Regions from separate parts of the Homo sapiens genome. Here region 2 is linked to region 1. The links come from fine-mapping of genetic effects on gene expression. A gene starts in region 1. The other region holds a variant in brackets. All regions are shown on one strand. Distances are between the middles of the regions.

The links. PIP is the estimated chance that this variant, and not a neighbour inherited with it, causes the effect.
Region 2: its variant is the best candidate, but not a certain one, in a credible set for the expression of ZNF358 in whole blood (INTERVAL, PIP 0.58).

The regions. Positions count from the first base shown.
Region 1 is chr19:7,513,766-7,518,150 of GRCh38, forward strand. It overlaps ZNF358 (zinc finger protein 358), which reads left to right and starts at 2,338. Exons shown (of 2, transcript NM_018083.5): 1 at 2,338-2,484. LOC105372261 (a long non-coding RNA gene) reads right to left here. Exons shown (of 3, transcript XR_936294.3): 3 at 588-710. RefSeq lists a silencer at 2,170-2,419.
Region 2 is chr19:7,414,622-7,419,006 of GRCh38, forward strand. All of the region lies in intron 10 of ARHGEF18 (Rho/Rac guanine nucleotide exchange factor 18), which reads left to right. Among named protein-coding and RNA genes, the nearest start is that of ARHGEF18-AS1, 22 kb to the left of the region's middle. The variant TTTG/T (reference allele first, on the strand shown) is at 2,285.

The sequences.
Region 1 (4,385 bases):
ACTTTATAGTCCATGTATGTGGCAACCCTGGCTCTCTATCCCATCTTTCTTTAGTTTGTTCCACATTTTAGGGTTTTTTTTAAAAGATTTTTTTTATTACTCTTTCCTTTCCAGGTAATAATTCCTAAATTAGTCAAGACTGTCACGGATGCAAAGAACAGACATCCACTAAAACCAGCTCAAACACCCAGAACATTTGTTGGTTTGTGGTACAGGAAAGAATGAGTTCTGTGGCTTCAGGTACGGCTATATCCAGGAGCTCAACAAATATAGCCAGAGCTATCTCTCTGACTCTTACTTGTACATCTTGGTGCATATTGTCCTCAGTCTGCAGACCGTTCTTTTGAACAACTGGGGAAAGTGGCTGCAGGCAGAATGAGCCCCCTGTGGCTCATAACCCCAGAAGTAGAGTGAGAACCTCCAATGTCACCTTCTCAACCCATACCTAATTATTGTGGCCAGGGGATAGGGGCCCTTTGATTAGAGTCCAGCTCACGTGGGACTGGGAAGGGGTGTTAGACACATGTGCATCTGGAGTAGTGGAGGGGACCCCACAAAGGAAAAGAAAGTACTGTTAGATTCTGAGCCAAAGAAACAACAGATGTCATCACATGTATTTGTAATGGGATCATCCAGGAAGTGTCAGGATAAGGAACCAGGGGCATAATCCAATTGAAGTTATCTCCAATCTCTCAGATCTGCTGTGGGCTCTGCGGAAAGATGGAAAGCAGGTCTCAGGCTGAGTCTAACACACATCTAGAAGGTTCAGGAAGGAAGAAGGAACCATAGGGTGTCTCTATAAGGAGGACATGGGGACAGAGGAGTATCTTATAGAATTTGGGCTTGTACTTGGTGGTTTGCATTTTTTGTTTTGTTTTTGTTTTTGAGACGGAGTCTCGCTCTGTTGCCCAGGCTGGAGTGCAGTGGTGCAATCTCGGCTCACTGCAACCTCCACCTCCTGGGTTCAAGCAATTCTCCTGCCTCAGCCTCCCGAGTAGCTGGGATTACAGGTGCCTGCCACCACGCCTGGCTAATCTTTGTATTTTTAGTAGAGACAGGATTTCACCATGCTGGCCAGGCTGGTCTCAAACTCCTGACCTCAAGATCCACCCGCCTTGGCCTCCCAAAGTGCTGGGATTACAGGCATGAGCTACCGCACCCAGCCTATACTGGGTGGTTTTACAGAGAATTACTAGGGTGGTATTGTCGGGAACCTGGGAGCGCTTTGCTGACTAGGTATTTCAGTGATTTTTGTCTCAGAGGTGGGAGGATGGCAGTTGGGTTGGAATTGTCGTCGGTAAGAAGTGGCAGTCATTTGTGTTCACTTGGAGAGGGGGATGAGAACTCATTTTTGTGGTTGCACAGGGCCCATGTCTCTATCTTGGTTCAGACATGGTCACAGAGTGGCCTTGCCTCATCATTGTTTATATTCTGTGACCATTGTTTATATTTAGTGGAGAACATCGCGGCCCAGCCATCAGGAGCTGATTTCCACTCTCTCTCCTGGCTGGCAGCGGGGATCTGTGTCTCCAAGGAAAGTTTGCCCCGAGCCCTTCCCGGCCCGGCGTAGGGTTCTCCGGAAACCATCACTCACATCTAGCACTTGGAGGCCTCCAGGGACAGCGGTGACCCACCATCTGGGTAGGAGGCTGAAAACACTAGAGGAGGAATATCCCAAATCTGTGCCTTGGCGGGTGTTACCCAGAAAGGGTGACGGGTTTCACCATGCAAAAAGGAAAAATTGGAGGAAGGCCAGGTTAAGCAAAAATAGACATGTTTTTAGATTGCAGAGCTGAGAGGCTTGGCTGTGCCTATGTGCGCTGCAAGTCTCCAAGAACAACATGTGTAGAGTTTTACGAACAAAGATAGAGTCAGAGACATGGGCAGGAGGCAGAGACAGAGAGAGAGAGACAGACAGACACAGAGAGAGATAGAGGCAGAGAAAGCAACAGAGGCAAAGAGATTGGAACACAGAGAAAGAGATGGGGACAGAGACACAGAGAAAGGAACAGAGATGGGAAGACAGGGACAGAGACAGAGAATGAACAGAGATAGAGAGATAGGGACGGAGAGAGACAGAGAGAGGGACAGGGATGGAGAGAAAGAGATAGGGCCAGGGCCACAGAGGGACTGAGACAGGCCCAGGAGGAGACTAGGGATGGGGCCAGGGCTGCGTGCGGGCGGGGCACGGTGCAGACAAAGGCGCGGCCGCGCGGTCGGGGTGGCCTGGCCGGGGACAAAGGCCTGCCCGGGGGGCGGGGGCAGCGATGGCGACGGCCGCGGCGGGCGCGGGCGAACTACAAGTCCCAGCAGCTCCCGCTGCGGCCCTCGGCCGGCCCCTCTCGCTCCCCGGGAGCGCCTGGCGGGGCCGCTGGGCCGAGGGGGCCGCCGGCGGGGCTGGCGGGCGGGGGGCTTCCTGCGGGCCCGGGGGGAGCCGGCGGCCGGCGCGGGCGCGGCGGGCCGGGCAGGGGCGAGGGGCGCCGGGTGAGTGTCCCTGCGAGCGGGCTGGGGCCGGGGCGGGGGGCTGGGTGGGGGGCGGGCGGGCGGGGGAGCTCCAGGCGCGGGGCGCAGCCCGGGGCGACCTCTAATCGTCCCCCGCCCTGCGCGCCGCCGGCCCTGGCCCAGGCGAGCGGGGGTCGCGGGAGCGATGGGGAGGGGACTCTGCGGCCAGCTCCGGCCTAGCGCACCCATCCCGCCGCTGGGGCCCGGGGGGAAAGGGCCAGGAGGTTGGGAGCCTTCAATCGGGCGGGGTGGGGGGCGCCCGCCAGCTCTGGGGTCTGGAGCTCAGGACGCCCCCTCCCTAGGAGGCGATCCAGGACCCCCTCCCCTCCTGATTCGAGGTATTGTTCCCACCTCCCGCCTGGGGTCTGGAGTTCAGGAGGCCCTGTCCTCAAAAGGGGGACCTAGGGGTTCCCTCTTCCCCCAGGACCCTAGGAAGGGTCCCAGCGATTGTTCCCTTGCCCCTCCAGTCTTGGGGTCTGCAGTTCTGGAAGCTCCTTTCCCTGGAGGTGATCCAGGGGTCCACCTGCCCTCACCCCTGGGAACTCAGGAAAGACTTAAGTGATTTCTCCTCCCACCTTCCAGTTAAGAGATGGGAATTCAGGGGGCTCCTTCCCCTGGAGGCAATCTAAGGGTTCCTCTGCCCCTGATGCAGGAGGGGTCCCAGGTCTTGTTTCCCCCACTCTCCAACTATGGGGTCTGGGTTGAGGACCGCCGTCCAGGAACTCGGCTCTGTTTGCCTGCACACTCCCAGCTATGGGGTTGTGGCTCAGTGTATTCCTTTCCCCAGAAGGGGAGCCACAGGTCCCCCCACAGCTTCTCCCAGGAGCAGATCATTCATTGTTGACACCTCAACACCCAGCCATGGGGTGGGGAGCTCAAGGCATCCTCCCGGCAGGTCATCCTGGGCTCCCATTGCTCCCCAGAAGTGGTTCCAGCTTTTGTCCCTCTACCTCCCAGTCTGCCCCTAGCCACAAGCTGGCAATTCAGTTCAGGATCCTTCCTGCAGGAAGGGCTACAAGTGTGCTGACACTACCCGCCATGTCCCAGCCATGGGAGGAGATGACTCAGGCGTTCCCCCATTAACTTCAGAGGGTCCCCAGGTATTATTTTTGCCTATCCTCCAGCTAGAAGTTAAAATGCAGGACCTTCTAGCCAATAGGGAAAACAGGTATACTGGCCGGGCATGGTGGCTCATGCCTGTAATCACCATACTTTGGGAGGCTGAGGTGGGAGGATCATTTGAGCCCAGGAGTTTGAGTCCAGCCTGGGCAACATACCAAGACCCCATCTCAAACATAAATAAATAAATAAAACAGGTATACTAACAACTGTCCCCACCATCCTGCCTATGGGGTTCATGAGTCTCCCTACCCATCCCTCCTCACCAGGAGGGGTCCCAAATATCACTCTACCATGCTCACTATCTGGCTGTAGGAAAGGGCATTTCCGATCTGTCTAAGAGAGAGGATTTGACACTGACTCCCACCTGGAGCTGTGAGCTCTGGAATTCAGGTTTTCTTTTCCCCAGAGGGCAAGCCAGAGTCTTCTTGTCTTTCCCCAGTGACTTGGGAGGGATACCTGATGTTATTTGTTCCATATTCTTATCCCCCAGACATGGGTTCTAGAGCTCAGAATGCTGCTGCTGGAGGGGGGCCTCCCTACCAGAACTCGCCCCCTAAATTAATCTGCCGCCTCCAAGTATGGGACAAGAATTCAGGCCATGTGCTCAGGAGCACAGAAACGCTGACACCCACACTGTTCCCCATGTGGGGACGCCCAGCAAGGGGGTAGGAAGCTAGGACTGTCTCCTCCACAGGACCCCAGCTTCCCACAAGAGGAGCCCAGGTTGGAGAGAGGTGCAGAGCCATGGAGTTGGGGACTAG
Region 2 (4,385 bases), 99 kb before region 1:
AAGATGGTGAAACCCCGTCTCTACTAAAAATACAAAAATTAGCTGGGCATGGTGGTGCGTGCCTGTGATCCCAGCTACTCTGGAGGCTGAGGCAGGAGAATCGCTTGAACCCGGGAGGTGGAGGTTGCAGTGAGCTGAGATCGCGCCATTGCACTCCAGCCTGGCGACTGCGAGACTCTGTCTCAAAAAAAAAGAAAAAAACAAAAACAATAAAAATACAAAAATTAGCCGGGTGTGGGGGCAGGTGCCTGTAATCCCAGCTACTCGGGTGGCTGAGGCAAGAGGATCATTTGAACCCAGAAAGCAGAGGTTGCAGTGACCCGAGATCGTGCCACTGCACTCCAGCCTGGGCCACAGAGTAAAATTCCATCTCAAAATAAATAAGTAAATAAATAAATAAAATAATACTAGTTTGAGCCAGTGATTATGATACAACTGTGTTCTCCCCTCCCCCAAAATAAAAACCACGCATGCCATTCAGCTATTCTGCTCCCAAGACCGCTTTCAACAAAGCTGGACCCAAGGACCTTAGTTCCATCCCTTATCCCATTGAATCTCCAGGCAGCTCCATTAAACCACCTCCCTAACCCTGCTCCTGGGCACTCCTGGGTTCTCCCGGGCTTCAGGTAGCACCTTAGGCCCAAATGTCCACCCCTTGCTTAGAGCGCCCTCCTGAGCGCAACACCCCGTGCCAGCGGCTGCCTGCTGCCGAGCCCGCCACTCTGCCCCCCACTTCATGGCCCCTGCACCGCCCCTCTCTGCCACTCTCCACCCTGCCCTCGAGGTCCCGGTCCCCCTGCGTCCACCAGCAACCCCTTCCAGTGTGCCCTGCTCCCCACGCTGCAGCCATCGTTTCGAGAAGCAGAGCTCATCCAATCCTCCACATAAACCTTTCCGTGGCTTCAGGTTCAATGACAAAGTGACTCTCCAAGGGCCCCCAAGGCCCATGGCAGAACCTCCTGGAATAAGACATTCCCTCCACCCTGCCCTTTCCTTTCTCTGACCGGTCCAGACCAGGTCCCTCCCAGACGTCCTCTCCCTCCCTCCCTGAAGCGCGTATTTGTTAAGCACCCACCCACCACATGACAGGCCTCGTGCCAGCCATGACCACAGAGACCCGCAGCTCCTGGAGTTTCCCTTCTAAATAAACAAAACTACAGTTGAGCCTTGGGATTTGCAGAGTCAGTGTTTACCCTTTTGAAGATATACCCAGGAGTAGAATTGCTGGATCGGATGGTAATTCTTTGTTTAATTTTCACCCGCTTGCTAAAATTTCTCTGTAACCGCAACATGAATCCATTCATATTGGTGCAGAGTGGAGAAAACTTGGAGTTCCCACACAGGTTCCCAGCTGAGGCTGAGCGAGGCGACACTCCACCTTCTCGTTCAGCCTCTCACACTGTAAACACATGCCCTGTTGAAGGTCTATGGAGTACCACGGTTTTCGCATTTGTGTGCTTCTTGTTGGTGATGTTAATGTTGAAAATGACCCCTAGCTGGGCGAGGAGGCTCATGCCTATAATCTCAGCACACTGGGAGGCCTAGGCAGGAGGATTAGTTGAGCCCAGGAGTTTGAGACCAGCCAGCCTGGGCAACATAGCAAGACCCTATCTCTAAAAAAAAAATTTTTTTTAATTAGCCAGGCATGGTGTCACACACCTGTGGTCTCAGCTACTTGGGAGGCTGAGGCAGGAGGATCCCTTGATTCCTTGAGCCCAGGAGTTCGAGGCTGCAGTGAGCTACGATCACGCCACTGCAGTCCAGCCTGGGCAGCAGAGACCTCATCTCTAAAATAACAATATAATAATAAATTTTTTAGAAAATAAAATGACCTTCAAACGTAGTGCTGCAGTGCCAGCAAGTGCCCCTGAGTGCAAGGAGGCTGTGATGTGCCTCACGGAGAAAATTCGTGTGTGTGTGTGTGTGTGTGTGTGTGTGTGTGTGTGTGTGTGTGTGTTTTGGGGTGGATGATATTTTATTTGGGTTTTTTTTTTTTTTTGAGACAGAGTCTTGCTCTGCTGCCAAGCCTGGAGTGCAGTGGCACGATCTTGGCTCACTGCAAACTCTGCCTCCCGGGTTCACACCATTCTCCTGCCTCAGCCTCCCGAGTAGCTGGGACTACAGGTGCCCGCCACCACGCCCAGCTAATTTTTTGTATTTTTAAGTGGAAACGGGGTTTCACTGTGTTAGCCAGGATGGTCTCGATCTCCTGACCTCATGATCCGCTCGCCTCAGCCTCCCAAAGTGTTGGGATTACAGGCGTGAGCCACCATGCCCGGCTGTT[TTTG/T]TTGTTGTTGTTGTTTTTTGAGATGGAGTCTCACACTGTTGCCCATTCTGGAGTGCAGTGGCACCATCTCGGCTCACTGCAGCCTTTGCCTCCCAGGTTCAAGCGATTCTCCTGCCTCAGCCTCCCAAGTAGCTGGGATTACAGGCACGCACCACCACACCTGCGTAATTTTTGTATTTGTGGTAGAGACAGGGTTTCACTATGTTGGTCAGGCTGGTCTCGAACTCCTGACCTCAAGTGATCCACCCGCCTCAGCCACCACCCAAAGTGCTGGGATTACAGGTGTGAACCACTACACCTGGCCTGGATGATATTTTAAACAAGGTGGCCTCTGGGGCTTCACTGAGAAGGTGGGCAGGTCAGACAAGATGGCTTACCACCTGTAATTCTAGCACTTTGGGAGGCAGAGGGAGGAGGACTGCTTGAGGCCAGGAGTTCAAGACCAGCCTGGGCAGCATAGCAAGACCCTGTCTCTATTTGAAAATTATACATTTAAAAATAAAAGTTGGCCCAGCACAGTGGCTCACACCTGTAATCCTAGCACTTTGGGAGACCAAGGCGGGCAGATCACTTGAAGTGAGGAGTTGGAGAGCAGCCTGGCCAACATGGCAAAACCCCATCTCTACTAAAAATACAAAAATCAGCCAGACGAGTGGCGCACGCCTGTAATCCCAGCTACTCGGGAGACTGAGGCATGACAATCACCTGAAACCAGGAGGCAGAAGTTATAGTGAGCTGAGATCGCACCATTGTACTCCAGCCTGCATGACAGAGCGAGACTCGGTCTCAATAAAAATAAAATGAAAAAGAAGATGGGGACAGGCAGAAGGAGCAGCAGCCACGGGGGCCCAGTGGGATGGTGACATGTTTGGAGGAGGCCGGGGTGGGTGGAGCCAGGTGGCCCAGGAGAGTGGGAGAGTGAAGGCTGGTGGTAGCTGGTGAGGAGATAGCCTGGGTGGGGCCAGAGGTCCTGGACTCTCTGTAAGAGACCAGATGGTACATACCTTGGGCTTTGTGGGCAGCATAAGGTCTCTGGTGCATATTTTTGCTCTACCAAAGGAGGTGCTGGATTTGGCCCTGGGGCCATAGTTTGCCGACCATTCTTGCAGGTCACAGTGAAGACGGGTTCCTGGGGAAGGTGGGGGCCATGGCAGGGCTTTGAGCAGAGGAGGGACATGCCTGACTTGGTTGTTAGTTGAATCATTCCAGCAGCTACGGAGGAAGTGAATGGTAGTACAAATAGTCAAGGAAAGTATTTGCTTTGTGTCAGACAGCATTCCAGAATGTTCTCTATCACAGCCAACCCCCAGAGAGGGCATTACTGGTTTTTTGTGTTTGTGGGGTTTTTTTGTTTTGTTTTGTTTTGTTTTAAGGCGGGATCTCACTGTCACCCCAGCTGGAGTGCAGTCGCACAATCACAGCTCACTGCAGCCTAGAACTCCTGGGCGCAAGCGATCCTCCTGCCTCAGCCCCCCAAGTAACTGGGAGCACAGGCGTGCACCATGCTTGACTAATTTTTTACTTTTGGTAGAAATGGGGTTTTGCAATGTTACCCAGACTGGTCTCAAACTCCTGGGCTCAAGCATTCCTCCCACTCTGTCAGTGACAGATGGCCACTCTGTCACCTTCTTGCCACCTCAGCCTCCCAAAGTGCTGGGATTACAGGTGTGAGCCACTGTGCCCAGCCAGCAGGCACTACGATTATCCCCATCCTACAGATGGGGGAAATGGAGGCAGGGTGCAGTTAGGTCCCTGGCTCTGGATCTCGGAGGTGGGGGTTTGAGCCCGGGCAGCGTGGCTGCGATGTCTGTTCCTAGCACACCTGCCCTCTCTGCCCCGGCCCATGTGGCTGATGGAGTTGTCGGTGTGGATTCAAGGGGGAGAGAGGGAGGAGAGGAGGTGAAGGTGGCACTCATTGACGGCTCTTTTGAGTTTCCACAAATACTTGTTTCCTGGAGAGTCTTTCCTTTCAGACATCTGCTAGTCCACCTGGCGCCTGTTCAGTAAGCACCAGGGAATGGAAGGGCCTCTCCCTTCATTTCTGCATTGCAGGTGTGTCTGCTCTCCAGCCCCCCAGCAGCCCCTCACCCCAGGTGCA